Linked DNA regions of Homo sapiens. The gene in region 2 interacts genetically with the main gene of each other region. Each region holds a gene or a part of one and is shown on either strand. Other genes may lie near its edges.

Region 1 (3,693 bases), on a different chromosome or scaffold from region 2:
CTCCCCTGGCAACTTTTTCTTCAATGACTTGAGCTGGTGTTTTGCCATTTTCCATACTCTATCATGGGGAGTGTTCAGTATCGGCATCTAGAGATCTCCCCTGGCCCCATCACAGCTAGAGCTATGCTGTCCCCTTTCAGGGACATCTTGTAATTTATCCACCCAGCCCCCAACTGATGGACATAAAGGCTGTCTCCCCATCATCTCCTGCTACTACAGACAGCACTGCAGGGACTGTCCTGCTGTGTTTTTTTAAGGCATGGGTACTCCAGAAGCAGTTGCTCAGCTGCACCCCCAAGGTTGAGTGGAAGTCCCTCGGTAAAGGAGGAGGAGAGAGTGTGAAGGGAATGGCAAGGCGGGGAGGGAGACAGGGCACAGGTGTCCTGGCAACAGCAGATGGGAAACAGGTCTGGCTAAGGTACCAGAAGCCAACAAGTCCCAGAAAGGTCAAGTGACTTTCCCAAGGTCACACAGCAAGTTGATGGCAGAGCTGGGTACAGGACTCAGAGCATCTGACACCCAGGACGATGTTCCTGCACTGTTCCATAGAGTAGCCCGACTCTTAAGTTTAAATAACCCCAGGAAGGACCCCCTCTCTGTGCCTGACCCCCGCTGGGTTGTAGAGGCCTAAGTTTGCAGTAGCTCCTCCCAGCCACTCTGGCTGTCAGCCTCTGACCTGCAGTGGGAGGGTCTCACCTTCTGGAGATGTTTTAAGGAGGGGACCCCGGCCTAGGCACTAGCTGGGAAGCCACTGAGCCATCTTGTCTGCGGCCACTGACGTCAGTGCTTGGGCACAATGCCAGCCTGTTCCCGGGACCCCAGCACAAGGGCTACTGGGAGCCGGGTTTGGGGCAGGAAGTCAGCGTGAAGCACTGGTCCTGCCACATCCCAAGCCCCTTGTCCCCTAGCTCTGTGGGGGTGGGGTGACAGCTGCTATCGCTTTGGGGTTAACTATAGTCCCTTTGGGGTTAACTATAGTCCCATTGGTTATGGGACCTCAGTGTGATGTAGCCAGGCTGGATTCCCCCTTTTGTTTGTTCATTTATTCATTCATTCAGGGGTCTCATGACCCCACCAGGGAGGAGCCGTCCAAGAGAGTTAGCAGCTCCCACTTGCAAGATGTCTGTGGCAAGGCAGGCACTGTTCTGGTGCTGAGAGCTCAACTCCAGTCCTCACAGCAGCCCCCAGAGCCAAGGAGTATCACCAGTCCATTGCACAGATGGGGAAGCTGGGTTCTAGAGTCACAGCCAGCAGAGTAAAGGTGATGAGTTTAGCCCTCTTCCCTGTTTCCAGACCCTCTGAGGCCTTCAGAGCCCAGCTCCTTGAGGCAGCCCACCCCGACCGCTCCTAGGCTTACCCTTCCCTGAGCACCGCCCCTGTGCCCCTCATAGCTGCTTCTGCCTCCTCCCTCCTCCCTCCTCTCCCTTGCCCCTAGGCTAGTGTGGTCCCCATGGCAACTCCTGGGGCCTGTCCGGCAGGGAGGCACGGGGCTATGGGGAGGGCTGGCTCAGCAGCTCAGGAGTTTGACACCTGAGGGGGACAGAATGCTCACTCAAGGTGTGGCCCTAGGGACCCCCGCCTTGCCCCTGTGGGCCTCACTTGGGGTTCTCATCTGCAAAATGGGGATAATAATAGCTTCTCTGTCTCAGAGTTGTTAGAGGATGTGATGAGCCATAACGTGCCAAGGACAGGGCCTGGCACAGAATAAGTGCTCAGAAAACAGGGCCTGTTATTATTTTTATTATTATAATCAAGGCAGTGGGGAGGCGGCGGTGGCAGTAGCTGTAGGCCAGGAAGGGAGTGTTTGCAAACTGACAGCTGGAAGGGTGACTAACAGCGCAGCAGCCTCCGCGCCCCCCTGTGGTGGCAGGGAGTTTGGGGAGGAAGGGGGAGGCATGGGGATGTGGAATGCTAGCAGGGCCCCTATTCAGAAGGACCTAAAGGTTGGGGGCCCAGCCAGCCCTAGTGGGACCCTAATTCAAGCTCTGTCACCCCTAACTAGCTATGTGACTTCAGGCAAATTGTTCAACCAGTTGAGCCTCAGTTTCCGCTTCTGTGAAATGGGGGTAAGAGGGTTAGAAGAGCTCACAATCCTCCTTCCCTCCCCGCCACCCCCACCCCCACAGCTTACAGTCCACAGGAGGCAGGGGCAAGGGGTCCTCACCACCCCCACCCTCACAGCTTACAGTCCACAGGAGGCAGGGGCAAGGGGTCCCCGCCACCCCCACCCTCACAGCTTACAGTCCACAGGAGGCAGGGGCAAGGGGTCCCCGCCACCCCCACCCCCACAGCTTACAGTCCACAGGAGGCAGGGGTAAGGGGTCCCCGCCACCCCCACCCCCACAGCTTACAGTCCACAGGAGGCAGGGGCAAGGGGTCCCCGCCACCCCCACCCTCACAGCTTACAGTCCACAGGAGGCAGGGGCAAGGGATGGTTCCTGTACTTAGTGGTGACTGAGTCATGTGGATGGAGGCAGGTTTCAGGCTCATCCTCCTTGGGCCTCAGTGTCCCTGCCTAAACAGCAGGATTGATGGCCTGGCCTCTGGGGATAGAAAGGGCCCTGTATTCTGGGAGGAACGGAAGCTCTTTCATCCAGGGGATGGGGCAGGGGCGCACCAGACATTTCCAAGTTCAGGGTTTCATTCCAGCCCCTCCTCAGCCAGCTTGCAGGAGATACCTGTCCTCCCCTTCAGGGTAAGCAAGACTTAGAAGGGTTGAGTCACTCACCCCAAGTCGCACAGTCAACAGAGCCAGGTATTAAGCCCAGGCCTGACTATAGAGCCAGGTGTGCGGCCTGGAAGTGTTGGTTCTCCCTGGCCGTCTCCTCCCCAGCTCCTTCTGCTCTCCATGATCACATGCCCCCCTGCTGAGGCCCCATCGCCCTTGGAGTCAAACCCTGGTTCCTCACATTGGCAGTGGAAGTCCCCCTGCTGCCTGGCAGAGTTTATGCCAGGCCCACTTGAAACCATCCCCTACAGTGTCCCCTGAGCAGCGGTGCTCAAGGTGGACTCTGGAAGTGTGTGGGGTCCTAGAGCCCCAGATGGGCAGGGTCTGCCTTCCCGCTTCCCTCACCATCGGCTTCCACCTGGGCCAGTTTCTCATACTATGCCAGTCCCCTGCCTGACACCTTTGCTCAGACTGCTGCATCAACCTGGGGTGCCTTCCCTGGCCCGCCCTCTGCCTGTGTAAGCCCTGCAATCTTCAGGGCTCAGCCCCAGAGCTCCCTCCTCCAGGGAGCCTGTCTGAGCTCTGCAGTCCGTGCCTACTTCACACCCCCAGCACTTTGCACTAAAATGTCTTCTCCCGCGCCACTGCACTCCAGCCTGGGCAACAGAGCAAGACTCCGTCGCAATAATAACAATAATAATAAAATAAAATGTCTCCTTCCACTGGGGTAGGTAGCAATATTTGTGACTGTCAGCCTAGCCCCCAGACCTCATCCACTGTATCAAAGAGCCCAGCAAAGAGGCTCATGGAGGAGTTTCTCTTCTAACACACTGTGACCACGAAGATGCCACTGGCCCTTTCTCACCCTCAGTTTCCTCACCCGTAGAAAGGAAACAGTAGTTCCAGCCCCTCTGCTTCCTGAGACAGGTCCAAGGGGGCTCTGGGCTGGGATTACAAAGTATGTGTGTGCAGACGGGTGGGTTGCTGCTCTCAGGGAATGGGGTTGGCTAGGGTAGCTTTTTTGG
Region 2 (3,693 bases):
TTTACTGATTTTGAATCCCATTGTTCTCCACCTACTTCAGTCATACTGGCCTACTCACAGTTATCTCCCAAACTCATCAAGCTCATGATACCTTTGCTCACTCAGGTTCCCTCATCCAGAACGTGTTTCCTTTTCTCCATTCATGTTAATCCTCCCATTTTTAAAGGCATGGCTTGTTTTACTGCCTTTTTCTATTCTTCCCCGGATTACTCTATCTCATGATGGTTTCTCCTCTCTCTAACTCCCTTGGCTCATTCTAACATGCAAAAACTTGCTTTTTATTGTTGTTTACTTTAAAAAAAATATTTTGCATTGTGAAATATAATGTACACACAGAAGAATAAACAAAACAAAGTAAAAAGCTTAATTATTCCAAAGTGAAGATCTATGGCCCAGGTGCAGTGGCTCACGCTTGTAATCCCAGCACTTTGGGAGGCCAAGGCAGGTGGATCACTTGAGATCAGGAGTTCAAGACTAGCCTGGCTAACATGCTGAAAACCCTTCCCTACTAAGAATACAAAAATTAGCCAGGAGGGACAGAGCAAGACTCCGTATCAAAAATAAATAAATAAATAAAAAAGGCCGGGAGCAGTAGTTTACGCCTGTAATCCCAGCACTTTGGGAGGCCACACCTATAATCCCAGCACTTTGGGAGGCCAAGTTGGGTGGGTCGCCTGAGAGGTCAGGAGTTCAAGACCAGCCTGACCAATATGGTGAAACCCCATCTCTACTAAAAATACAAAAATTAGCCAGGCATGGTGGCGGGTGCCTGTAATCCCAGCTACTCAGGAGATTGAGACAGGAGAATTGCTTGAACTCGGGAGGCGCAGGTTGCAGTGAGCCAAGATGGTGCCACTATACTCCAACCTGGGTGACAGAGCAAGACTCTGTCTTAAAAACAAAAACAAAAACAAAAACAAAACTATGAAACTTCCTCTAGGTCCAGAAACAGAAAATTGTTACTATCTAGAAATCCTCTCCATTTTCCTTCCTAATTACTAACACCCTTTTCCTTCCCCTATCCCTTACAAAAAGATAATCACTATTCTAAAAACTATAGTAATTCCTGGCTTGATTTTGTTTATAATTGTACCACCTAAATATGCAACCTCAAATACAATAGTTTTTTGAGTTTCATATAAATGGAATCATACAGTATGTATATTTTTGTGTTTGGCTTTTTTTATTGAACATAATGTGAGAAATATACATGTTGTATAACAATGTTCATTTTCATTCTGTATAGAAAACATATTTATACTCATTTAAACAAATGGATGACTCTTTTTTTTTTTTGATGATTCATTTTTATCCATTCTGCTGTTGATGGACCTTCGGGTTACTTAACTTTTAAAAAGTATGTATCTTTTTGTCTCTCCAGCTAGAATGCAAGTTTCTTGAAGGCAGGGACCATATACTATACTATTTTATATTTACCTTAGTATTAATATTTAGCATAATCCTAAGCACATAATGGGTGTCCTCAATCACATTAAATATTGATTAAATGAATCTATTGATAGTTTGAGAGATAAGAAAAAAATAAGTACAGTTGGGAATCAATTTAATATTTTTAGAGATAGTTATGTAACTGGCCTTTTGTAACTACTACTATTTAAATAAATCACAAAGTTTGACCTCTTCTATTCATTTACACCTAAGGATTTATTGTCTTTTATTCTTCCTGAGCCAAATGAAAGCTAAATATTTGTTAACTATCCTCAAAAATAAAATTAGAGCAATTCAAAAGGTGGTTAATTGTTATGTGCTATTATTTATTATTTTTTGAGGCCTTGCTCTGTTGTTCAGGCTGGAGTGCAGTGACACAATCCTGGTTCACTGAAGCCTCGACCTCCGAGGCTTAAGCCATCCTCTTGACTCAGCCTCCTGAGTAGCTAGGACTACAGGCATGTGCCACCATGTCCAGCTAATTTTTTTGTTTTAAATTTTTTGTAGAGATGGTGTCTCACCATGTTGCCCAGGCTGGTCTTGAACTCCTGGGCCCAAGCAATCCTCTTACCTTGGCCTCCCAAGTGTTAGGATTACAGGAATTAGCCATTGCATCCAGCCATCTGCTTATTTTGTACAGTATCTCACCAATATGTTAAGTACTCACCATGGCCATAGCTCTTAATGAGCTGCTTTATTTTTTATTCTATTTCCTAAAATTTATATTAACCATTATAAACACATGAAGACAAGCCCAAAAGCAAAAATTCCAGTGCATAAGGTCAGCAGGAAATTAATCATTCCTATTCAAAGCTAAAACAAACCAAATAGCTTTTAGTTCTATATCCTCTTTTTATACAGTCAGTGACTGTTTCCTAGGTAATGTGTAAACGTCTCAAAAGAGTATTTATATCACCTAATCTTCAGTCCTATTCTGACATTCTCTTGGAGAGCTGGTTTTGCCTTTTCGTTTATTTGCCTTTTATAAAACTGAAGGCTCATCAACTTCTCAGCAAACAGGAAAATATATTTCCGGGCAAGAATTTCTGATATACCTACATCTTGGCCAGGTACACATAAGCATGTCTCTAATATTAGTTTTAACAATACACAGACTATAACTGGTCTGTAAATTTTGTTCAAGTTGGTAATTTAACAAGAAAAAAAGTAAAAAGGAAAATAGTAAATAAATGAAAGGCAAAATCTAAACAACAATGGTATTTCCAAGTCGAAGAATTATGTAGAAAAGAAGAGCTGTTACTACTTGTATGCAGCCAATTCACTTCTAGCTAAGGATAATTATCAAAGCCAAATTTAGTACTTTTAAAATCTAAAATAACATTCTAATTTTGTATGTTTTCAAAACTGAGGCCAGTAATAAATATACCTCTTTCTTTTCTTGCAGGCGGTGGGCGAGGGGGGGCGGTTATTTAAGGCTTTCCTGGAAAGAAAGCAGATTGTTTAAAATGTTACCTTCGTAACTTCTTCATGAGGGAATAGTGTGATGAGAAAACACAGCAAAAAGTTACAAATGAAGGATGATGATGTATACTAGTAGAGAAGCCAGGGAAATTTCTGGTTATATCACAAGACTCAGGACCTTAAGACTAACTGTACTATAAAATAAATGTTCCATTAAATAAGGAGACATTTAGGGAAAAAAGAGAAAAGCTAAAATTATTTTTAAAAATTTTCAAAAATTAAAATAATCCTCAATTGTTTATGTATGTGTGTGTGTGTGTGTGTGTGTATATATATATATATATATATATATATATTTTTTTTTTTTTTTTTTTTTTTTTTTTTTGAGGCAGGGTCTCACTCTGTCATCCAGGCTGGAGTGCAGTGGTGCAATCTTGGCTCATTGCAACCTCCGCCTCCCAGGTTCAAGTGATTCTCCTGCCTCAGCCTCCCGAGTACCTGGGATTACAGGCACCCGCCGCCACACATGGCTAATTTTTTATTTTTAGTAGAGACGGGGTTTCACCATGTTGGCCAGGCTAGTCTTGAACTCCTGGCCTCAAGTGATTCACTCACCTCGGCTCCCCAAAGTGCTGGGATTACAGGCGTGAGCCACCGCGTAATCCAACTGTTGATATTTGCCTTATAAAGATGCACAGAGGAAAATAAAAAATTATTTCTGCTATAAGAAACCTACCAATTGTTTATTTCTGTAAGGCAACTAATCACACATGTTCCTTGTCTTTTCATGTAAAAGACTATTTCTCCTCAAAGCTGAAGAAG

The links. Genes that interact genetically often act in the same process or in processes that back each other up.
Region 1: changes in GOLPH3L (region 2) and CSK are lethal when combined (synthetic lethality), as found in Homo sapiens cells (one large-scale study listed by BioGRID).

Annotation. Positions count from the first base shown.
Region 1 is NC_000015.10:74,791,988-74,795,680, forward strand, and holds part of CSK (tyrosine-protein kinase CSK), read left to right. Parts: intron 1-1,058; exon of another isoform or gene 1,059-1,261; intron 1,262-3,693. UniProt on the Homo sapiens protein: Non-receptor tyrosine-protein kinase that plays an important role in the regulation of cell growth, differentiation, migration and immune response.
Region 2 is NC_000001.11:150,690,622-150,694,314, forward strand, and holds part of GOLPH3L (Golgi phosphoprotein 3-like), read right to left. Parts: intron 1-3,693. UniProt on the Homo sapiens protein: Phosphatidylinositol-4-phosphate-binding protein that may antagonize the action of GOLPH3 which is required for the process of vesicle budding at the Golgi and anterograde transport to the plasma membrane.